Homo sapiens: one gene and its partners. The protein of the gene in region 4 purifies or fractionates together with the protein of the main gene of each other region. This does not show direct contact. Each region holds a gene or a part of one and is shown on either strand. Other genes may lie near its edges. The genes, in order: PFAS, GNB4, ISOC1, DFFA, NUDT5, NSUN2 and FAM118B.

Region 1 (3,500 bases), on a different chromosome or scaffold from region 4:
TAAAAAGAGAAAAAAAATCTGACTTGAGAAAGAAAATGCAGATTAAAAATAATAATAATTAACAAAAAAGAGAAAAAAAAGTTTACCTAAAAACGGTATGCCATGTTACATTGACAGTAGCTTCATATTATCTCATATTTACCACGTCTTTTTTTTTTTTTTTGACAGTGGTGCGATCGCAGTGGTGCGATCTCCACTCACTGCAACCTCCACCTCCCAGCTTCAAGTGGTTCTTGTGCCTCAGGAGGCTGGGACTATAGGCATGCACCATGACGCCTGGGTAATTTTTTTTTTTTTTTTTTTGAGATGGAGTCTCCATCTGTCGCCCAGGCTGGAGTGCAGTGGTGGGATCTCAGCTCACTGCAAGCTCCACCTCCTGGGTTCACGTCATTCTCCTGCCTCAGCCTCCGAGTAGCTGGGACTACAGGTGCCCGCCACCACACCTGGCTAATTTTTTTATTTTTTTAGTAGAGACGGGGTTTCACCGTGTTAGCCAGGATGGTCTCGATCTCCTGACCTCGTGATCTGCCCACCTCAGCCTCCCAAAGTGTTGGGATTACAGGCATGAGCCACCATGCCCGGCAGATGCCTGGCTAATTTTTGTGTTTTTAGTAGCAACAGGGTTTCAGCATGTTGGTCAGGCTGGTCTTGAACTCCTGATCTCAGGTGATCCACCTGTCTCAGTCTCCCAAAGTGCTGAGATTACAGGTGCGAGCCACCCTGCCTGGCCCACCACGTCTTGATTGCATTATTTTCTCTTGTGCTTATTTTATTCTCATGCTGTTTTGTTCATCATGGCTCCCAAGTGTACAAAATTCCTGGATAATATTGCCAGTAAGAGGCTGTGTGGATCGTGTAGCAGGCTATGCCATCTAGGTTTGTGTATGTACAGTCTATGAAGTGGGCACAATAATGAAATTACCTAATAGCCACATTTCTCAGAATGAGTTGTCCATCATTATGTGACACATAAGATAAGCCAACATATTAAAAACTAACCACTGAAGTGTTCCCTAAGTTCCCTCCCTGTAGCCATCCTGTGCTGGGGAGAAAGCTGGCTGGATCCAGAGAAAGGTGGCAGGCTCTTACCTGGCTCTGGGGCCTCCTTGCTTATGTGGTCAGCTTCCATGGACCCAATGCCCCCACTAAACATGATGGGCTTGATCCACTCACGCCGCTGGCCGTCTGGGAGCTGGAGGCCCAAGGAGCGGGCGAAGCCTGGAGTGTGAACATCAGAGGGACCTGTCACTCAGTTCCCCCAGTGCTCGCCCAATAGCACAGCCCCTGGGTCGCACACCCCACCCACAAGCCCCTCTGGGTGTTTGTCATCCCTCCACACCCCAGCCTCACCAGCCAGCACTGGTTCCCCAAACTTGTTGCCATAGTCAGAAGCTCCATTACTGGCTTCAATGGCAACCTCCAGGGGCCGGGCAAAATTCCCAGGATACTGGAAGCTTGGATCCTCCCAGGGCAGATTGTAACCTGGGAGGGAAGGAGAGAGAACTGGATGAACTGAATGAACTGTGAAGACAGGCCGGAGCAGCCTGCATCCTTCAGGAAGAGTCAAGGCCACCAAGGACCACCTGCATGGTTGCAATGTTCCACTTCAGGAAGTCCTGCTTTAGGAAGCCCTAGAGCCTGCAGTGAGGCACTGGTCTTCTTTCCACCACCCACACCAGCCTTCCCTCTGAATCTCGCAATCAGAGTTACACAGGCTTTCTGTTTTTTTTTTTGAGATGGAGTCTCGCTCTATCACCCAGGCTAGCGTGCAGTGGCGTGATCTTGGCTCACTGAAAGCTCCGCCTCCCGGGTTCACGCCATTCTCTCGCCTCAGCCTCCTGAGTAGCTGGGACTATAGGCGCCCGCCACCACGCCCAGCTAATTTTTTGTATTTTTAGTAGAGACGGGGTTTCACCGTGTTAGCCAGGATGGTTTTGATCTCCTGACCTTGTGATCCGCCCACCTCAGCCTCCCAAAGTGCTGGGATTACAGGCGTGAGCCACCACGCCCAGCCAAGTTTCTCAGGCTAAGAAACCAGATTTGAGGGGCAGGTACTGATCATAAGACCAACCCAATATCATGCTTTCTGGCTGAATGAAGGCTAGTTTTTAAAGAAAATCGTAGACCTGCAAAAGCAGTCTGGCCACCTCATCTCCCCAGGTCTACACTTATGACCATAGTTAGTGAAAGGCCAGCTATCCTAGAGCCCTTCCTCCTGAGAAAAGGCACACAGGATAACCCTATGGACCTAACAGATAGAAGTTTGCTGCCTGCCAGGACAAGGAATCTGGAAGGGAAGGTGGATAGAGAGGAAGGAGATGGAACCTGGAATATGCAGATTTCCAAAGCAATAGCCGGCAGTGCCAGCCACCACGTGGGCCCCGCGGCCTGTGCACTGGACATCTCGAATCCGGCCCCCTGTGCCAGTGGTTGCACCACTAAAGGGGCATACTCCTGCAAAGAGAGAGTGGGGAGAGGTCTGGGTGCCTCAGAGACAAACCCCCATCTCTGACCACCCCCACTGAAAATAAGGACAACCAATTTCCCTGATTATTTTCCCCAGGCCCACTCCAGGGGCCTGGGACCTTTGCCCTACCCTATTCTGTGATCTCACCTATTTCTCCAGGGAACCCAGCTCACCTGTGGGAAAGTTGTGAGTCTCTGCTGTGAAGACAACATGTCTCAGCCCTTGCTGTTGCTGGAAGCGGCTTGGCCGTGTGGGGTCCTCAGGCCGTAGGAATCGGACTTCCTTTCCCTGGATTGCACTGTGGACATACCCGTCATGGACCTTGCTTCCTTTCTGGGACCTACACTAACCCAACCAGGGCCTGGGGCCTCCCCTCCCCGGGTCCTGACGCCAACCCAGTCTAGGGCACAGCACCTGCTGTTATCACAGAATTTGAGGACGTTGTTGGGGTTCGAGGATTCCTGGGTGCTCATGATGGACTCAAACAGTGAGTGCACCAGCTTCTGCCCATCCACGTGGAGCTGGCCCTTGAAGAACCAGTGTCGGCTGTGCTCGCTGCAGGGGGCGATGCAGGGAGGGGAAGGCAGGTGGAAACGGGGTCATTTCTTAATGCCATGTCTTCTCACCAGCATTTAACAGCAGAGTTACAGCCAAATTCATACTTAGATGACAGATCAAAATATATTCCAAAAAGTCATAATCTTCAAGTATTCTGTCATTTTGGACTATCCAGAGCCAAAGTGAAGATAAAACCAAGATTTGAATGTAGACTCCTTGATGGATGACGGGAGCCCAGGCCCTCAGAGACTCAGGGAGGCCCCTAAGCCAAGGGAGGAACATGAAGGTGAGCCCCTGTGGTCTCTCCCAACACCCATGGGCTCAGGTATGGGAACAACCCCATTTCTCCTCACCTATTGGACTGCGCCAAGTCAAAGGCCTCCACAGTGCTCGGGTTCCGCTGTAGCTCCTGGAAGCGCTTGGTGTAGAAGTCTAGGTCCCAAGAGTCTAAAGCCAGACCTAGGAGACAAATCCA
Region 2 (3,500 bases), on a different chromosome or scaffold from region 4:
GAATATCCCATAATTTGGAAGAGGCATCACAAGCACCAGAAACAAAAGTCCTCATGTCAGGACTCAAAGAAAGACTCATCACATCTCCAGAATGCCCAGTGAATGTGGTGGTCTGCTGGGCAGTTTCGATGTCCCATAAAGCACTGTAATTAAAAACAAAATTTCATGACAATTACTTCTTCTTATGTCAGTTCCTGCTACCACCCTCAAACCCATAATCAGTGTGCTTCTGGAATAAACTTACCAAGTTGTATCTCCTGAACTTGTAACAATTTGGCTGTCATCTAAAAAACGACAGCAGGACAAGTACCCTACAGCATAAAGAGTAGCAAATTTTAGGTTATCACTGATTGAATAACTCAGTTACCATGTGAAATAGCAATATATATTTTTAAAAATAGAATACTTGGGCAACAAGTGTTTGTCAATATAGTCTATAGTTCTACTTTTAGTTACTTCAAATCCTACATTGTCTATAAACCAAATTTTATCCACAAACCATTCTTAGGCATTAACTATGTTAATGACATTGTGCTGGGTACTCTGAAAGTTACCAAATTGAATAAGACACAGCCCCTGCCACCTAAGACAATTACCTTGGGAAGAACTATAATCTATGGCCGACTGTGTTAAGCACCCTGGAGAAATAGTTTTAAAATACTGTGAGAGGATGCCTCTGGGTGCACCGCCTATGAGTTAGCCCTTCTCTGCAAGGAGCAGTTAAAAAAATTTTTTTTTCAAATAAAAAATATTAAAAAAATAAAATATTGTAAGAAATCAGAAGAACAACAGTGAAGACTTTATGAAAGATGTGGCATTTGAATGCTTAGCATTCATCAGTGTTTCAAAATATGGAAATGTCAGAAAAACACCATTCTAGAGATTTTGTAAAAGCATGGTCAAATAGTATGGCTAAAAATTCAGATGGATAGATACCAGATAAGTGGCAATAAATTCCTGATTAACACCACTAACCCAATACTACACTATTGAACTATGATGGGCACACTGGCAAACAAAGCAATACACTATCATGGTGAAAAGCACTTCACTAATGTACCTTAATGCATACTTTCAATTATGTAATTGAGTACAGATGCCACAATCCCATAATTGTTATATGGCAGCAGAAAATGGAGAACATTTTATTTGCTTTATTTTTCATGAGTTTGAATTTTGTGCAGTAAATTTATCATTTTTTACAAAAACAATACAGCTATTTTTGAAAAATAAAATTATGATCAACGTTTGTATGACTATAAAAAGTTAATGTTTCCTTTGTTCATAATAATTTCATTCCCACCCGATTAATCCTCATCCTTTAGCCAGCCGAGCACAATCTGTCATTTGTCCTTGATCAGCACATTCCACACAAGGAATCGTGTGGTGGGAAAGAATATTTAGGGAAGCTCACCTGTGTGACCTGGCAACTCTCGGCTTACTCTCACATTTCCCTCTCTGGTCTTTAAGTTATATATAGAGCAGATGTTGTCCAAGCCTCCACAGGCAACATAATTACCAGAGGGAGCATAAGCACAGGTCATCACCCAGGAGGACCTCAAAGGAATAGCATGCATCTGTAGGGCACACACCACACATCACTCAGATTACAAAAACAGTCATCTATTGCATAAACCCATTTACAATGAAGTAAATATTATTAAAAATTAAACACATCTAAGAAAGATAAGTCAAATAAAATAATGTAATGGCTTGAGAAAGTGAACCATGAAAAATACAACACTAACGCACATTAAAATGCCTATTGTTTTGTATTATCAAATCATTTGAGTCAAAAAGTGCTCTTTTTGGAAATAATTCTCTTAATAAAATAATGAACATAAAGATGTTCCAAGGTTAATATACTGCCATTTGAAAAATTAAGTGTAAAATGTTAGAGGTTTTAATAGAATTTTCACTTTTGTAATAGTGCTCAGAAGAGAAATTTCCTCCAACATAACTCTGAACAAGAACTAGGGAAATAATTAGCAAGTATCAGAGTCGATTACATGAGTCTTCCATGAAAAGACAACACTGGCATCCCTCTATTAATAGGCCCTTATTCTGGGATCTCATTCAAACAATGGTGATAGTTTTTTATTGCTCTAGAAACAACACTGTCTGCTGCCTTGTTACCCTAACACCAATCATTTGAAGGTCAGATGGAAAAAAGGTGTATGAGAATACCACGGCTAAACAGTCCATACAGGGAATCAACACGTGGCAGGATTACTACTATGCTCTCACTTAACCTAAAATAATACGCTTAAAATACATTTTTTTTGTTTTATGAAAATATAGTTGAAAGATAATGTGCTTAATGATGATTAATAAAGAAAAACTATTATATTACAAAATTGTCTTAGCTAGCTTTAAAATCTCAATCAGGTTGAAATTATTATTTCACAAAATGGTATTTTCAAATGTTTAATAAAAATACTAATATGTATACACAGAGTATAAAGGTATTAGCTTATCAAAGTATTCCTGAAGCTTTTTCACCACTCAACTATTTTAAACTGGGGATTCCTTCCAGTGGATGTATTAGGACCATCCACAGTCTTTTACCACCAAGAGATCTACGTAAGTTGTCATTTACCTCCAATCTACTGTATCTTCTAAAAAGTCCAGAAGCACAAATCAGTGCCTGGAGCGGGCCAAAGAAGAGCTTCCCACTAGCCATCTAACTTATCCAAAACTAGAAATAAAAATCTCAAGGTCTTTGTCATATTAGGAAATGGGAATTTTTAAAAATCATTTATTAGTATATGTAAAATGGTACTCTTCTAATATTCATATATTAAATATGAGCCCTCTAGTAAAACATAGAGTCATCTTTGGAAATGAAAAAGGGTTAAACATTAAAAGTAAACACTAAGACAAAAGAGAAGAACTAGATTAAAATAAACAATAAATTTATCTCAGAAAGCAATTTAAGTTTGAGGTAAAAGAATAAAGGAAAGAACTGGTGAACAGCCAAACAAATATAAGGTTATTTAAAAGAATTATGAAGAAATTCTACCTTATTTGTTGTATAGCTATCCCAAATAATTAATTTTCCATCTTGAGAAGCACTGACTAGCAGCCTAGAGGAACAAACACAAAAATAATTTGACACTTAGAGGGAAAAAATAGCTTAAATTGGTTATGCATTGCATTAATGTAGAATAATTCAGAAAAATACAATTTTTCCAACTAAAAACTTGATACCAAAAAATGTTCTTCCAACTTTTAAAAAATTTATGCTGCATGCCAAAAATCTTGAACATATTTCATAAAATAAAATTTAGCAACTGACTAAAAATGTCTGGCTATGATTAAACATTTTTGTGGTAACAACATCTTAGTTATACAAGATTTGGGTGGATATTAGCTGACTGGTTTAGTACTTACTGACTTACTTAAATTTCATGACAAGAATGTACATAGAAGCCTAACAACCATATTTCATCCAATCTAAAAACACCAATTGAGAGCCTGAGAATATGACAATACTAGAG
Region 3 (3,500 bases), on a different chromosome or scaffold from region 4:
AAGGCCCTCCCCTTTCTCATTTGCTCTACCTTACCACCCTGGGGAACACAGTAGGCTAAAGGGATGAGTTAGCATTCCTACTACAGACAAGGCAGTTCACAGGCCAGACTGTGCATAGAACACTGGAGGGTCTCAACAAAACAAACCCATGTATTTCCCATTCTCAATAAACAGTTAAAGAACTCAGCAATTAAATTCACATGCACATTGCTCTAAAATTATTACAAAATTAGAACTAAATATGAGAGAGAGAGAGATCAAACGACAATATGGAGTGAATATTTCCCAAGATTATGTGGTAGTTTGCTTTTTAACAGTCTTGAAAAAGAAAATGCTTGACATCCTACTGTTGGGCAATGTTGACAGAGAATTACAGACTCCCTGATTCCATGGGACATGGTGACATTCTAATGCCAAGACTACCATGAAACACTGGATGTGAGTGGTGTCCACAGTCAATGACACACCACTTAGTCCCAGAAATTCAAGTCTGAGGAAATCTAATAGTCATCTCTGGTTCCTGGATGCCACCCCACCCCATACCAAAATCCATGGATGCTCAAGTCCCTGATATAAAACAGCATAGTATTTGTATATAATCTATGCATATCCTATATACATTAAATCATCTCTATATTACTTATAATACCCAATACAATGTAAATGCTATGTAAATAGATGTTATTCTGCCCTATCATTCTATTTTTATTTTTATTGTTGTGATGTTATTTTTTATTGCTTTTTATTTCTGATATTTTCTATCTGTGGATACAGAAGGTCCACTATATATTAAACTGGGTTAGGCCTGCTCTGCTCTAGCTTTTGGCTAAATGAGTTAAACCCAACTGAGCTATTTTTAATTTGCAAACCTCTAAACAGTTTAGGTTAGGCTTCTTGGAATATCTCCTAGTTCACGTATAAAACTAGGGCAAACGTATGACGAAAGATGTAAAGGAGTTTGTGGCAACGCTAGAAACCTTGATCTAAGGAGGAAACGAGACATAAAATAGGATATGGTGGTGAAGCCTTAAGGGTCAGTCAGTGCACAGTTGAAATCAATTAGTCTGATATTGCCAGACCAACTCAAATTTAGGAGGTAAACCTTTCATTACTGTTAAATATCCAGTATTCTTCTCATTTATTTGGAAAACTTGACAAATGATCTATTCCCAAGCAGGACAATTACCTCGAGGGCAAACATCCTGTCCATCATGCTTCTTGATGAGGTGGCATCAGCAACAATGTGAACCTCGACTCCTCGGCCAACTAGCTCCAGGGCAGTTTGTTGGATGCACACATGAGTCTAGTAGGAAAGTACAAGAATCATATGTAATAACATAATAAACTAAAAGTAGTTTACAAATGTACAACAACATGATAAAGCAGACAGAGCACTACAGATCATCTAAGGACCTTGTTCTACATCTAGTTTTGCTTCTAATTAGCTAGATAATCTGGAGCATAAAACAGTATCTCTGGCTTTGGTTTATTCATTTGTAAAATCAGGAACTGAATTAGGCCAATGTTTCTGATACTAAGAACCTTAAACATATTCTTAGAGTTTTACAAGAATTTGTTAAAGATTTTGCTCCATGTGATCTGGATGACCTTCACATAGCTGATTTACTAGCACTCAGTTTTGGTGCGACTTTGAGTTTTTTTCTTCATTCACCCTAAGTGTCCAACATGAAGAATGAGTCTTCAGTCTTGCAGACTGAGAACTTAGTGGGAAAACTGAGTCATTATGAGGCACTCTGTAGTAAAGGTAGGCCAAGTGAAAAATAACTTATGACACGGGAAAAAAATACCCAGTTCATATCATCCGCAAATGTATTATACAGATTCCATCTTTGTAAGTACTAACTTGTGTCAATTCATTAACAGATACTATAGAGTGAAAACAGGCTGCAACAATGACTGAATCATGTATTACAACCAATGAAAGTACATTTCAATGATGCCACGTCAACTTTATCTTCACATGACAAGAGCGTTTTGGAGAATTATCAAATGACACCTCATTAAAATTAGCATTGAAGGACCACTCAAAGATAATTGTGATTGAGCATAAGGTCTAATGATGATGAACAAGCAAAAAAGGTGCAAAGCCAGCAACAGCACTTGGTACGACATATTTATACAAAACAGGCTTCTTCTTTACTGTGCCAAAATACAGAAATATTGAATATACATCTAAGCCTGAGGAAATATCTTTCTACTGTTAAAACCTACTACTATAAAAGTTACCTTCAAATTGTCATAATCACATTAAATTAATATTTTGATTTCATTGTTTTAGTGGTTTTTTCTTAATTTTTAAAATTTTAGTTTAATAGTTGTTTAAAAGCTAGGAATAAATCAATTGAAATCAGCAATAGGAATCCATTAGTATTTTTCCCCTGTAAAAAGATACATACATGATTTGAAGGACAATGAACTACATGACCTCCAAGGTTCTTCTAGCACAAAAATATGACCTAACTGAAATCCTACAACACATACATTAAAATAATGCCTTTGGTGAAAATGTATTCCAAAAGTAGTAGTTAAAAATACAGGACCAAGAATCAATCAGCTTACATACATTCAAGTCAGTTACACAACATCTCGGTATTTTAGTATCCTCTTTAATATGGGGAGACTACTGAGTATTTAGCTCTTACTTGGCTTAAGGGACTTAATAAATAAACAGCTATAAAATGTTCAGATCAGTGCCATGCAAATAGTGAACATAATACATGGTGGCTACCTTTCCTCATTATTACTGCCTACCTGGCATACCATATATGAAATTACATTCCACAAATATTGAGTTTTCTATAAATAATATTGTGCCTAAATGATAGTAACAGGTACTTACTTCTACTCCAAATAATACAACACTCCTGACTCCGGGAATCTCTGCTAATGCCGCTTCTACTTCTGGTAATACCATTGAAAACTTGGTCTTTGGAAGTACCAGTTTTACACCTGTTAAATCAATTTCTTGAACCGTGCTCCCAAGACCTTTAGGGTATTGTTCTGTTACAATAACAGGAATTCCTAAAATCCGGGCCCCTTGCAACTGAAAAAAAATAACCAAACACAAAAACAATTAGCTATATACATATATGTGTATATATGAGTGTATATGATGATTCAGCAAATATGACCAAATAAGTAAACAAGCATACCAATCTCTGTCCCACGCTAATAATATCCCCAAAATACTTGATGGCTGGTCTGAACCTTTCCTGCATATCACAGCAGAAAAACACAGTGCTTGAAGGTGTAAGATTTCCCAGGGTAGTGAGCTGAGGAAAAAAGAAAAAGAATGATTTAGCACTTGTTGTACAATGACATTTATTTTCAGTGGAGGTCAATAAAGGAAGAAAAATGGTCCTATTGTTTGAGCCAGTAAGTCAATTTCTACCGCTATTATCCAAAAAAAGTATCTGAATTACAGGAAAAAAAAAAACTCAAAAAGATGTTCTCTGAATTGCTTTTAATAGCGGAAATTA
Region 4 (3,254 bases):
GGAGAATCCCTTGAACCTGGGAGGTGGAGGTTACAGTGAGCTGAGATAGAGCCACTGAACTCCAGCCTGGGTGACAGAGCGAGATTGTCTTAAAAAAAGAAAAGAAAAAGAGTGAAGAAAATCCGCTATCTATGCATTAATCTGTGGGCTCATTTCCTTGCAGCCTTGTGATTGCACGAGTGTTGTCTGATATCATTTGAGCAAGTTGTCAACTCTAAGGTTCTGCAACCTGTAAATGCAGTGCAGCTCCTGGGGAGGGCGTCTGTCCCCCTGGCTGGAGGCTCTCAAACAGAATGGAGACCCTCACTGTCAGACCTATTGGGAGGACTCAGGCGGTGGATGGGGGTTCAGACTAGATCATGTCCAAGGTCCTTAAAAACCACAAGGTGTATAAGATGCAGCCAAAATGATTTAAGGCAAAACCCCACAAACAAGATGGACAAAAACCCTCAAGGTGAAAAAGAAAAAAAAAAAAAAAAAAAAAAAGCTTGAACAGGTAATTAGGAAATTAAACAGCTAAATAATGTGGTTATTTATTAAAGATACATTAATAATTCTTGTAATTGATGCAGGTTTTCTTTTTTCTACAGACTACTATTATTTTATTCTTGTCTCTCTGGAAAATGAAAAATCCATTAGTTTTTCTCTTTTGCTTTTACCCAGAAATTAAAGGTTGGTAAGTGGTAATTAGCGTAGCTCCTGTCAAAGCCAGTTGCCTCATGAGGACCGACATTTGACTTAAGCTGAAATAATGGAATATGGCTAATGTAAAGTTCATTAGTCCCAGCTGCTTTCTTTGACATTCTTTTCTTCTACCACAAGAACGGGCATGCCCTGCCCTCTCTCACTCCTATTTTTAGACGTATTGCTGCGCTCCTATGTGTCTATTCTACAAGGCTGGAGGCACAGTGGTTATAGGGAAGGTAAATGGTAATGGGACAATATGTCTGTGACCACGTTCATTACACATCTGGGATAGAGCTCTGACTCTTTGATAGAGGACTCCAGCACCCCATCTGTCTGCCCCTGAGAAACGAAAGAGAACCACTCTCCACTGTCTACTATATGTTAGGTACTAGGATTTTTCTCATTATAGCACTTCATTCCTTTCTTGGGGGGGACTGGATTATTTATTTTGAGACAGGGCCTCACTCTGCCACCCAGGATGGAGTGCAGTGGCACGATCACAGCTCATTGTAGCCTCGAACTCCTGGGCTCAAGTGATCCTTCTGCCTTAGCCTCCCGAGTATCTAGGATTACAGGCATGTACCACTACACCCGGCTAATTTTTATTTTTTACATTTTTGTAGAGATGGGGTCTTGCTATGTTCCCCAGGTCGGTCTGTCGGTCATGTGGTACTTCATTTAGGCCAGGCGTGGTGGCTCACCACCTATACTCCCAGCACTTTGGGAGGCCAAGGCAGGTGGATCACTTGAGGTCAGGAGTTTGAGACCAGTCTAGCCAACATGGTGAAACCCTGTGTCTACTAAAAATACCAAAAAAAACTTAGCCGGGTGTGGTGGCGGGCACCTGTAATCCCAGCTACTCTGGAGGCTGAGGCAAGAGAATCGCCTGAACCTGGGAGATGGAGGTTGCAGTGAGCAGAGATTGTGCCACTACACTCCAGCCTGGGCAACAGAGCAAAGCCTCAAACAAAACGAAAACGAAACAAAACAAATATAGTACTTCATTTAACCCTTTCAAGCTTGGAGCCTTAGACTAACTGAGAGGTTAGACTCAAGCCGGTTTGTCTCACTCCCAAATCCACAGGACATTTTCCATTATCCACCCAGTTCAGCCGCTTGGTGGGCTTGCTTCAAGTACAGAATATTAACACTAACGCCCAGACGAGTCAACGAACGCTCTGTGTGTCTAACAGAAATAAAATATTCTGGCTGGGTGTGGTGGCTCATGCCTGTAATCCCAAAATTCTGGGAAGCTGATGTGGGAGGATTGCTTGAGGCCTGGAGTTTGAGACCAGCCTGGGTAACATGGTGAGTTTTAATGTACCCTGGATTTCCTAGGAATGTAGCTACTCTGTAAATCAAGGACAGACACGTTTACTGTTCTGGGAAATCCCATTTCCAAGGGCAACGCTGCTGACGGTGTTTGAGCTGACAATCCCCGTGCCCCATGTGCCAATCAGCCTCTGTCGGATGCACAGCGATTCCGTGTGTAAGTGCAAGCATCTGACAGTGAAACACACACCACTTTGTTGGAAATTATTTTCCTTTTTGCCCTGAAACAGTACATCTGGGGCATTATATTAATGCTTCTGTATGAGTGTAGGTAGCTTATCAGCGGTGGCTTCTATTAAAGGATAATTAAGGAGGCATTACAAAATAAGCTATAAAAAAGGAAATGTTGGGGTGAGAGCCAATGGAGGGCATTAGTAAAAGGATGCTGAGTAGAAGATCTAAGCCCTTCTTGAATCACAGGAAAAGGAAACAGTTGTTTTTGTTCTATTTAATTGTTTTCTGTACCCCCATCTTTACCCTAGGACTTATTGTGATTTTCTTTTTTTTTTTTTTTTAAAGACAGAGTCTCATTCTGTCACCCAGGCTGGAGCCCAGTGGCAGGATCTCAGCTCAGTGCAATCTCCACCTCCTGGGTTCAAGCGATTCTCATGTCTCAGCCTCCTGAGTAGCTGGGATTACAGGTGCCCACCATCACGCCTGGCTAATTTTTGTATTTTTAGTAGACTGGGTTTTGTCACGTTGGCCAGGCTGGTCTCAAACTCCTGACCTCAGGTGATCCATCTGCCTTGGCCTCCCAAAGTGCTGGGACTGCAGGTGTGAGCCACTGCGCCCGGCCTATTGTGACATATTGTGATATTTCTTTCTTTTTTGTGTGACAGTGTCTCACTCTGTTGCAGGCTGGAGTACAGTGGCACAATTTCGGCTCACCTCCACCTCCACTTCCTGGGTTCAAGCAATTCTCATGCCTCAGCCTCCCAAGTAACTGGGACTACAGGCGTGTACCACTACACCCGGCTAATTTTTTATAATTTCAGTAGAGACGGGGTTTCACCATGTTGGCTAGGCTGGTCTCGAACTCCTGACCTCAGGTGATCCGCCCACCTTGGCCTCCCAAAATGCTGGGATTACAGGTGTGAGCCACTGCGCCCGGCCTATTGTGATATTTCTTTACTTAATAACTAGCAGATGAATCTCTTAACAGTATTCTGTTTTCCTCTAAGCATGCATAAAAAGTGGTCAAATAAGTCCATGATGACTCATCACCTTTTCCCTGC
Region 5 (3,500 bases), on a different chromosome or scaffold from region 4:
CCATCAACAGCCAAGTTGTGACAACTACATATGAAATATCTGAGTCCGCAAATGCATATATTCTTTCTTCTTCTATCTAGGGAAATACAGGAAGGATTAAGAATTTTTCTGTTAAGAGCCCAAATCTCCTAGAGTCTCAATTTCACTAATACACAGAGAGACACACTACTCCTCCCACACAAGAGCAAAATGTGCCCGAGCCCAAAAAAGGGAGTAGGAAAAATCTTTACAACTGTCTTCAAGAATGAAAGACCACCATTGTAACAACAGTCTATATATTTCTGCTAAACTCAGATTTATGTGGGGGAGGGAAGGGAAAGTGAAAAACAAGTTATACCTCCTCTGAAATGATATACTGTTTGCCATTCTGAGAAGATTCCGTTGGTTCTTGGCTCTCCATTTTCAAACGAGTCTTTACAGCCCTCAGGTGAGAAGTTCACCCTGCAAGATAATGAGATTTGTTCAGGCTAAAATTATTTTTCTGAATTAAACATTCGTCCACAGGACACTAGTCAAAGTACTTAAACGGCAAAAAATTCATCTACCATCAACGCTGCCTGTCTCAGTATGTGAGGGAACTGCCGCAGGTGGAAATGTGAACAGGGAGGCCCGGGGATTAGCCAGGAAGGAAGTGACAGCAGTCCTAGTCACCCTCAGCCACAACAGCCAAGCTCCTGCCATGCCTGTTCTAGGCACTTAGAGGCCACCCTTCTTCATCAGATTTTTCTTTTTTTTTTTTTCTTTTTTGTTTTTTTTGAGAGAGTCTCACTCTGTTGCCCAGGGTGGAGTGCAATGGCGCGATCTCAGCTCACTGCAACCTCCGCCTCCTGGGTTCAAGTGATCCTCGTGCCTCAGCCTCCCGAGTAGCTGGGATTACAGGCATACATCACCAGGCCTGGTAATTTTTATATTTTTAGTAGAGACAGGGTTTCACCACGTTGGCCATGCTGCTCTCAACCTCCTGACATCAAGTGATCTGCCCTCCTTGGCCTCCCAAAGTGCTGGGATTACAGGCGTGAGCTACCGCGCCCAGCCTGATTTTTCTGACTCCGAATCTTAAACTCTTTCCAAGGGAAGACAGAAGAAAGATTTACCACTCTCCATGCCCACCTCTCAGTCTTTTATCCATCTGTTACACCTAAACTTACTTATTTTTTGAGATGTAAGATCTCACTCTGTTGCACAGGTTGGAGTGCAGTGGCGAAATCATGGCTCACTGTAGCCTCTACCTCCCAAGCTCACGTGCTCCTCGCATCTCAGCCTCCTGAGTAGCTGGGATTACAGGTGCATGCTACCACAGCCAACTAATGTTTTAAACTTTTGGTAGAGGTGGGGTCTCACTATGTTTCACAGGCTGGTCTCAGACTCCCGGGCTCAAGCGATCCTCCTCCCGCCTCGGTGTCCCAAAGTGCTGGGATTACAGGCATGAGCCACTGGACCCACCTCCCCACTTACTTTTAAGTTTCAGCATGTATCAAAGTCATAGTTGCAGAGAAAGGATCGAGTAGTACTACAAGTTCTGTTATGAAAAGAGCAGGCCCTTATCCCATTTATTGTATATTATTATTTCCTCTTTCTTTATTCCTTCATTTTCGGACCTTGCCTGTCCGAAGGTCAAAGTCTTTTTTTCTTACCCACACACATGGTTGTTAATTCAGCTGTATATAGAATTATAGACCCAAAGCCAGTTGTCTATGAAACTGTAAGGCATTGCTTAGTTGTCTTACTTCTGGTGCTGCTGTTGAGAAGTCCAAAGCTATTCTTATTCTTGATCTTTTTGCCATGTGACCTGTCTTCCTCCTCTGGAAGCTTGTAGTTAGTCACTTTCATGTCGATGTTATTGTACTGGGAAGTCAAGTGGGTCCTTTCAATCTGGAAACTTCTTACTATGCTTCTTTACAGGGAATTTTTTTCTTGAACGACTTCACTGATGATTTCCTCCCCTGTGTTTTCTCTGTTGTTTCTTTTAAGAACTGTTACTTGGACCAGGCACAGTGGCTCACACCTGGAATCCTAGCCCTTTGGGGGACCAAGAGTCTGAGACCAGCCTGGGTAACATGGCAAAACCCTGTCTCCACAAAAATAAAAAATAAAAAAATTAGCCGGGTGTGGTGGTGGGCACCTGTAGTCCCAGCTACTCAGGAAGCTGAGGCAGGAGGGTCATTTGGACCCAGGAGTTGGGGGTTGCAGAGAGCCGAGATCACGCCACTGCACTCTTACGTTCCACGGTTCTCTAACCTACCCCACCTAACTTCGGCTTCAAAGAAAATACAGCCCACCCAGCATCAACTCTCTTCCCAACTGTCCTAAAGGAAAAAGTGAGTCTGCTCTTTGTTTCTTCTGGGACCCAAAGTGATCATACTACCCATCTGATCTTCAATTTGTCCCCAAGACAGCAAGCTTCCCTATTCTAAAATACAATCAATAACAAAACCAACTGTATGAATATTCATAAAGTGCGTTTACAAATCAAATATCTGATTGACTATCATAGGTAACCCTTGTGGCCAACCTGTGAAAGGTGAGATGATGTTTTAGGAAAGTGGCGGTGAGGCCGGGTGCGGTGGCTCACGCCTCACGCCTACAATCCCAGCACTTTGGGAGGCCAGGGCGGGTGGATCACGAGGTCAAGAGATGGAGACCATCCTGGCCAACATGGTGAAACCCTGTCTCTACTAAAAATACAAAAATTAGCTGGACGTGGTGGGGTGCGCCTGTAGCCCCAACTACAGGGAAGGCTGAGGGAGGAGAATGGCTTGAACCCAGGAGATGGAGGTTGCAGTGAGCTGAGATCGTGCCACTGCACTGCAGCCTGGCGACAGAGCAAGACTCCATCTAAAAAAAAAAAAAAAAAAAAAAAAGTGGTGGTGAGAGGGACAAAGACCCTCACTCCCCCGGACCTCATTTTCCAGTGAGGAGAAAGGAAAAACAGTGAGGAAGAACACAAAATTTATGTCAAGTGACTCAGCGTTTCATGAAGAAAGATTAAAAAGGATGAGAAGTGTGGGGAAGATGGGAAGAGTAATCTACACGGAGTGATCAGGCAAGGCCTGTTTAATTTGGTGACTTCTGAATGGAGACCTGAAAGCAATAAGGAAGTAAACCACGTAGAAGTTTAAATATTTAGAGACAGACATTAGCATATTGAAACCTGCAGCCCTACTAAGAAAACAGGCACTTATTCCTTTGAAAGTACCATAGATGATAATTTATTAGGTAAACTTTTTTTTTTGAGATGGAGTTTCGCTCTTGTTGCCCGGCTGGAGTGCAAAGGCATGATCTCGGCTCACTGCAACCTCTGCCTCACGGATTCAAGCGATTCTCCTGCCTCAGCCTCCCGAGTACCTGGGATTACAGGCTCCTACCACTGCACCCGGCTAATTTTTACATTTTTAGTAGAGATGGGGTTTTGCCATGTTGGGCAGGCTGGCCTCGAACTCCTGACCTCAGGTGATCCACCAGCCTCAGCCTCCCAAAGTGCTGGGATTACAGGCGTGAAC
Region 6 (3,500 bases), on a different chromosome or scaffold from region 4:
AGAAATACAAAATGACGCAGCCACTGTGAAAAAAAGCATGGTGGGGTCCCCCCAAAATTAAACACAGAATTACTATATGATCATATGATCCAGCCATTCAACTTCTGAGTGTATATCCAAAGAATCGTAACCAGGATCTTGGAGAGGTATTTGTATACCATGCTCACAGCAGCATGGCTCACAACAGCCAAAAAGTGGAAGAAACCCAGATGTCCATCAACAGATGGATGGGTAAACAAAATGCGGTTTATATAAACAACAGAATAGTGTTCAGCCTTAATAAGCAATGCAATTTTGACACAGACAACAACACAAGTGAGCCTCAAGGACGCTGCAGTAAGTTAAATAAGCCAGTCACGAAAAGACAAATACAGTATGATTCCGCTTCTGTGAGGTCTAGAGTAGTCAAAGTCATACAGACAAAAAATAGAACGGTGGTGTGAGGGGCAGGGAAGAGAGAGATGGGAGCTACTGTTTAAAGGAGTTCAGAGTTTCAGTTTTGCAAGGTGAAGATTTCTGGAGATGGATGGTGGTGGTGATTAACAATGGGAATATACCTAACGGGACTGAACTGCAGGCTCAAAAATGATTAAGATGGTAAACCTCACGTTATGTGTATTGTACCATACACATATGAAAAGCCCCCTATGCTGTTAATAAAAGATCCATCAAGCGTGCTTACCTTCACTTTTTTCCAGTAAAGATGCTATGACTGCTTCATCCTCAATAGGGTTTAGTGAACACGTGGAATACACCATCCTTCCACCTTCAGCCAGCTGTTCAGCCCCGCGTGTTGCAATCCGCAGCTGTAAGCTAAGGGGAGATATCAGATGACTGCAAGGCCAAATGTATCCATGAAGTGCACATATTAGAAGCACCTCCTTATGTCACATATTCATTACAAGCTTTTATAACACAATTATACTTAAAAAAAACCTTCCAGGGATCTAAATGAAGTTAGAGTAAACTTATATAAAGTGTTTCATGTTAATAAAAAAAATGTATTATATAAATATTCTTACTGCTCTGTTAACCTTTCCCAATATGTCAACCAGCAGAGTATAAAGTTCAGTAACAACAGAATTCAATGTATTAGATGAAATTTCACTATTTAAAAAACCTCCATACTTCCTAAATATGTGGTTTTTCTATGAAAAATTGGTATCATACATTCCAGTCCTAACTCTTGTCTCTGTGTCACAAAACAGTAGACAGTATTTTATGGAGACGAGGCCTCCTGCTATAGTTGGTTGTGGTGGATGCTAATTAGTATTCTGTGGCTCAGGCACAGTACAGTCCTGCATGCAAGACCATGGCATTTGTCATGTCAAATGAAAAAAAGAATACACTGCTCTACAGACAGCATGATCAAAAGTATTTGGAAAAAGTACTTAAAAAATCCCTGTAAACAGAAAAACAATACAACACACCAAACATTAACAGACGTGATCATCGTGTTATGAGATTTCTCTTTAAGAATTTTCCAATTGTTCTTTAATGAATAGTTCCCCATCATAAAAAGCCAACCGAAAAATATTTCTAAGAGATCAAAATGTCTCTTAGCAAAACGATGATACAAAAGAACAAAAACAGAGAGAAAAGATTAGTAATGCATACATCAAGAGGTAAACGGTCATTTCATGGAAAAATACATATCTGAAGTGTTGCAAGAAATTTTTATAGAAGGCATTTTTAATAAACGTGTTATCTGAAATGTATACAATTTGCAGTTATTGCTCTTGAAAGGTTTTCAAATAACTTCTGATAAAACAGTTGAAGGTGGCCATTGACCATCCTCTGATGCTTACAGCTCTCTAATTAAAGATCGGATGCTCACTTGCATAACAATAAATCTCTGCTGATCTACTTGTCACACAGTGTTAGCAGTGATGAAGTTTTACTTACCCATGTAGCTGCAAGCTATTTAAGGTGGTCCACTTTTTCCAAACATCAATGTTTTTTCTCATAGTGCCGTCTCCACTGGAAAAAAGATATTTATGAGTGCAAAGCTCCCTACAGGTGGATGACTGCACTTTAACAGATATGTCACATACAAGCTAAGTTACAAAACAAGTGTTACAAATATCAGTTAGGAAACAATCTCCATTTTCACCAACTGCAATCTGCTTTCAGCTTTTGTTTTAGGGATTTTCTAATGTATTATAGTTTTAAATTATACTTCAATTTTCAAGCAGAAAATAATGGATTTGAACAGTAAACTCCATTCACTAAGGAGATATTAATGTGCTTCCATTTGGAAAAAACACTAGCAAGACTAATTTGCAGACCTAGGACACAGAACCTAAAATACTATTGAAAATCTCAGTTAATCAACAATGACACTTTAATCAGAATTACATGAATAATGACTAATAAGAAATTTTCCACAGTTAAGCTAATATATTAGCTAAATTTTTCCTACAATCACAGGTAAACATTTCTGACTTTCTACTTTTATTTAATGGAAGTTATTTTCATGTTTTTCAGAACCTAAAATACTATTGAAAAACTCAGTTAATCAACAATGGCATTTTAATCAGAATTATATGAATAATGACTAATAAATTTTCCATAGTAATTTCAATTAAGCTAATATAATAGCTAAATTTTTCTTACTAATAGCTAAATTTTTCTTACAATCACCGTTAAATTTCTGACTTTCTACTTTTATTTAATGGAAGTTATTTTCATGTTTTTGTTAATGGAAGCTCTTTCCATGTATATTTTATAGTAAAGACTGGATTTGTTACTTTCTGTGTCTAATTTTATCTGCCCTGTTTTCCCAGAAGGTAACGCCTGTTTTTGTTGGCTTTCTCTGTAAATGCTGATTTTCCTTGATGGTCTAGCCGCGTGTACACGAGGGACTAGGTCTGCAGGATGGAATTATCCCATGAGATGTAATCCCCACTTTGCAATGGCATTCCTGGCTGTACACTAGTTGTTTGCATGGTAGAAATCCCACCACAATTTCAGAAATTTCCCCAGCTTGCAACCTCTTGCTCATAAGGTCACTGCGTTCTCAGATCTCAGAATATGATACAAGGAACGAGTTATCTTTCTGATCAAAAAACAGGGGTAGGAAAACATGAGACCCCAAGGAATACTGAAAAATTGCAACCTAGAGGAAAAAAAAACTTTAGTTCATGATGTATTTTAAATTTTACTTTAAAGAGGGCTTTTTCCAGATTATTTTAACACTCAGCTATATTCAGAGCCACCAGCTGCAAGTTTCATACTGAGTTTTGCCATGAGCAGTAACTCTGCCACTTACTGAAACAAAATGGCATTCTTCCATAATGTGGTATCGTATCTAAAGCTTGCATTCTGTGCTAACAAGTTTTGTGGCAGCTTTTGAATTCTGGTCTTGACAAACTTATGTCATTCAGAAGTCATTATCACCTGGGATCATCATCCGTGCACCTCCTATGGGAACGGAACAGATGATGTCTTTAGTTTTGTTTCTTTCCTTTTAAAAAAACTTGTTACTCAGTTATACCATG
Region 7 (3,500 bases), on a different chromosome or scaffold from region 4:
TAATTAAGACTTCCAATTTGGCTAAGTGCAGTGGTTCATGCCTGTAATCTCAGCACTTTAGGAGGCTGAGCTTGAGCCCAGGAGTTTGAGACAAGCCTAGGCAACTTAGTGAGACCCCATCTCTGCCAAACAAAGAAAGAACGAAAAAGAAAATTAGGCACGTCTGTAGTCCCAGCTACCTGGGAGGCTAAGTTCACGGGAGGATCACGTGAGCCCAGGAGGCTGAGGTTGCAGTGAGCTGTGTTTGTGCCACTGCACTCCAGCCTGGGTGACAGAACAAGACCTTGTCTCGAAAAAAAAAAAAAAAAAGACTTCCACTTAAAAATAAAACATTTAACAATTGTGTTTTATTACTGGTTCTTTGTAAACCACCAAATAATAGTTACTTTTTTTTTTTAGCGGGTATATATACCTAAAAAGTAGGCTAGGTAAAGATGACAGCAGACAACAGAGGTCAAAGGGCAACAACATTTTACCAATTGTAATGCAAAGGCCGATTCCCTTGGTAGAATTTTGGGAATGTTCATGTACATCTAAAGGTAGAGGGGCTGGTGGGGCTAAAATAGGAGAATCAGTTACAAGCCTTTAACAGTTACAACTTTCAGCAGGCTAGAGGTTTCCCTTCTGCAGAGGTTGACCAGAGGACTATATCTGAGAACACTGCACACAGCTGAGGGTGGGGATTAAGTAAAAGTCTGTATATAAAATACAAGATTTCCCCCAACTCTCTTTCCCCAGAGGAAGCTTTTCAGACTCTAGGAATCAACTCTGTACCTGCACCCCTATCCCCCATCCAGTTAGGAAATGAGGACGATTCCTCTTTCAGGAAAATGGCCAGTATGAGATGAAAAACCTGCAGATTCTGACAGGTGGGAATTCCTTAACTCTACATAGAGTCTGGGACCAAGCCCCTTATGTACACACAGATTCTCCAACTGGCTTTTTTTTTTGAGATGGAATCTCGTAATCTTGGCTCACTGCAACCTCTGCCTCCTGGGTTCAAGTGATTCTCTTGCTTCAGCCTCCCGAGTAGCTGGGATTACAGGCACGTGCCACCACACCCAGCCAATTTTTGTATTTTTAGTAGAGACGGGGTTTCACCAGGTTGGCCAGGCTGGTCTCAAACTCCTGACCTCAAGTGATCCGCCTGCCTTGGCCTCCCAAAGTGCTGGGATTACAGGCGTGAGCCACCGCACCCGGCCTCTTCCATTGGCTTTTTGGTGTTTTCTGTTAAAAATGGGCAGACAAACAAGGGTCACCTCACATCTGAGGAAAGCCCCCAACATAACAGTTATACCAAACAAACTAGCAGGTAGAGAGAAATCTGAAGGAAATAAGAGATAGTATGGGAAGGAGAAAAAAAAATTAAAAGAAAACAATGATATCCTCACATATATTTTTTCTTTTCTTTTTTTTTTTTTTTTTGGAGACGGAGTCTAGCTTTGTTGCCAGGCTGGAGTGCAGTGACACAATCTCAGCTCACTGCAACCTCCGCCTCCCAGGTTCAAGTGATTCTCCTGCCTCAGCCTCCCGAGTAGCTGGGATTACAGGCACGCGCCACCACGCCCCGCTAATTTTTTTTTTTTTTTTTTTTTTTTTTTAGTAGAGACAGGGTTTCACTATGTTACCCAGGTACCCAGGATGGTCTCGATCTCCTGACCTCACGATCTGCCCACCTCAGCCTCCCAAAGTGCTGGGATGACAGGCGTGAGCCACCGAGCCTGGCCTAGATTTTTTTAAAATTGGCCAGGTGGGGTGGCTCACGCCTGTCATCCCAGCACTTTGGGAGGCCAAGGCAGGTGGATCACTTGAGGTCAGGAGTTTGAGATCAGCCTGGTCAACATGGTGAAAACCTGTCTTTATTTAAAAAATAAATAAATAAATAAAATAAAAATTAGCCAGGTGTGGTAGAGCACGTTTGTAATCCCAGCTACTCAGGAGGCTGAGGCAGGAGAATTGCTTGAACCCGGGAGGCAGAGGTTGCAGTGAGCTGAGATTGCACCATTGCACTCCAGCCTGGGCAACAGAGCGAGACTCCATCTCAAAAAAAAAAAAAAAAAAAAAAAGGCCAGGCGCGGTGGCTCACGTCTGTAATCCCTGCACTTTAGGAGGCTGAGGCAGGTGGATCATGAGGTCAGGAGATTAAGGCCATCCTGGCTAACACAGTGAAATCCCGTCTCTACTAAAAATACAAAAAATTAGCCGGGCATGGTGGCGGGCGCCTGTAGTCCCAGCTACTCGGGAGGCTGAGGCAGGAGAATGGTGTGAACCCGGGAGGCAGAGCTTGCAATGAGCCGAGATAGTGTCACTGCACTCCAGCCTGGGAGACAGTGAGACTCTGTCTAAAAAAAAAAAAAAAAAAAAGCATCTGTGAAACATAAACAGAGTGCTATGAAAAAATGAACAAACAAAAAGACTTCATAAATCAAAAATAACGCAACAGAAATTTTTAAATCCACAAGATAAAACAGAGAACCCCCGAGAAAGCTAAATTTAAGAAAACGAAATGGGGGGGAAAAAAATAAAGCAACACATAAAAAATTAGAGACTTAATACAAGAAGTCCAACATCTGAATAACAAGAGTTTTAAAAAAATGTGGAATAGAAAAAACATTGTAATGGAAAGTATCAAAAAAGTAATATAAGTCAACTTCTCCAAAGTGAAGGTACTAGTTGCCAGCTTTAAAGAGCTGCCCGGTGTCTAGATTCATATGACAAGATACATCACTGTGAAATTTCAGGTTACTGAGAATAAAATAATGATCCTTATAAGCTTCTAATGAACAACAACAACAACAAAAATGAAACAAAACAAAACAAAAAACAGGGAAAGAGGTCATACAATACAAAGGATTGGGAATCAGAACAGAGTGGCTATTTTGGCAGGAATACTTAGATGTTAGCAGAGTATGAATGAGAGATACTAAAAATTCTATACTCAGTCAAACCATCAAATGAATGTAAGTGTATGATAAAGACCTTTTCAAATATGTCCAAATAATTTTCTCCTATGGGTCCTTACTTAGGAGGCTATGCAAGGACATGCTTCAGGAAAACAAAGGCGTGCACCAAAAAAGAGGACATGAGATCCAGCAAACAGAGAATCGATACAGGAGAGATGTAAAGGAAATTATCAGGATGATGGGAATGGGAAATAGCAAATATCAGGAACGCAACAGGACTGGAGAACAAGTGTCCAGAGTGGACTAGCATCCAGAAGGAAGAATCCATGACACAAACCAGCAAGTTATCGGTGTGTTTCAGTATAGCTAGGAGATTTATTCTTCTGTCAGAGCATGTGAGAATACATTGAAAGCAAACAAACAAACAAAAAAGACAGTCTTTAATGACATAAGCAAAAAAAATGGGCAAGAAAGGAAACATAATCGTTACGCATTAGGCTCAGCTATGAATACTACTTATACAGTCGTAATAATGTAAATATTAAAAGTGGATTGAACCAGGCCGGGCACAGTGGCTCACGCCTATAATCCCAGCAC

The links.
Region 1: the proteins of DFFA (region 4) and PFAS fractionate together in Homo sapiens (co-fractionation; one large-scale study listed by BioGRID). This does not show direct contact.
Region 2: the proteins of DFFA (region 4) and GNB4 purify together in Homo sapiens (affinity purification with mass spectrometry, with the first as the bait; one large-scale study listed by BioGRID). This does not show direct contact.
Region 3: the proteins of DFFA (region 4) and ISOC1 fractionate together in Homo sapiens (co-fractionation; one large-scale study listed by BioGRID). This does not show direct contact.
Region 5: the proteins of DFFA (region 4) and NUDT5 fractionate together in Homo sapiens (co-fractionation; one large-scale study listed by BioGRID). This does not show direct contact.
Region 6: the proteins of DFFA (region 4) and NSUN2 fractionate together in Homo sapiens (co-fractionation; one large-scale study listed by BioGRID). This does not show direct contact.
Region 7: the proteins of DFFA (region 4) and FAM118B fractionate together in Homo sapiens (co-fractionation; one large-scale study listed by BioGRID). This does not show direct contact.

What each region holds. Positions count from the first base shown.
Region 1 is NC_000017.11:8,255,789-8,259,288, reverse strand, and holds part of PFAS (phosphoribosylformylglycinamidine synthase), read right to left. Parts: intron 3,485-3,500; coding exon 3,379-3,484; intron 3,023-3,378; coding exon 2,882-3,022; intron 2,766-2,881; coding exon 2,641-2,765; intron 2,455-2,640; coding exon 2,326-2,454; intron 1,483-2,325; coding exon 1,351-1,482; intron 1,219-1,350; coding exon 1,090-1,218; intron 1-1,089. UniProt on the Homo sapiens protein: Phosphoribosylformylglycinamidine synthase involved in the purines biosynthetic pathway. Catalyzes the ATP-dependent conversion of formylglycinamide ribonucleotide (FGAR) and glutamine to yield formylglycinamidine ribonucleotide (FGAM) and glutamate.
Region 2 is NC_000003.12:179,413,471-179,416,970, forward strand, and holds part of GNB4 (guanine nucleotide-binding protein subunit beta-4), read right to left. Parts: intron 3,087-3,500; coding exon 3,023-3,086; intron 1,578-3,022; coding exon 1,415-1,577; intron 312-1,414; coding exon 245-311; intron 144-244; coding exon 1-143. UniProt on the Homo sapiens protein: Guanine nucleotide-binding proteins (G proteins) are involved as a modulator or transducer in various transmembrane signaling systems.
Region 3 is NC_000005.10:129,104,749-129,108,248, reverse strand, and holds part of ISOC1 (isochorismatase domain-containing protein 1), read right to left. Parts: intron 3,294-3,500; coding exon 3,174-3,293; intron 3,065-3,173; coding exon 2,861-3,064; intron 1,304-2,860; coding exon 1,187-1,303; intron 1-1,186.
Region 4 is NC_000001.11:10,456,022-10,459,275, forward strand, and holds the end of DFFA (DNA fragmentation factor subunit alpha), read right to left. Parts: 3' UTR 501-3,254; downstream 1-500. UniProt on the Homo sapiens protein: Inhibitor of the caspase-activated DNase (DFF40).
Region 5 is NC_000010.11:12,185,892-12,189,391, forward strand, and holds part of NUDT5 (ADP-sugar pyrophosphatase), read right to left. Parts: intron 442-3,500; 5' UTR 401-441; coding exon 338-400; intron 1-337. UniProt on the Homo sapiens protein: Enzyme that can either act as an ADP-sugar pyrophosphatase in absence of diphosphate or catalyze the synthesis of ATP in presence of diphosphate.
Region 6 is NC_000005.10:6,616,045-6,619,544, forward strand, and holds part of NSUN2 (RNA cytosine C(5)-methyltransferase NSUN2), read right to left. Parts: intron 1,981-3,500; coding exon 1,906-1,980; intron 814-1,905; coding exon 683-813; intron 1-682. UniProt on the Homo sapiens protein: RNA cytosine C(5)-methyltransferase that methylates cytosine to 5-methylcytosine (m5C) in various RNAs, such as tRNAs, mRNAs and some long non-coding RNAs (lncRNAs).
Region 7 is NC_000011.10:126,235,782-126,239,281, reverse strand, and holds part of FAM118B (protein FAM118B), read right to left. Parts: intron 3,353-3,500; exon of another isoform or gene 3,211-3,352; coding exon of another isoform or gene 3,027-3,210; intron 1-3,026. Other genes in the region: SRPRA (signal recognition particle receptor subunit alpha), read left to right, coding at 3,027-3,210. UniProt on the Homo sapiens protein: May play a role in Cajal bodies formation.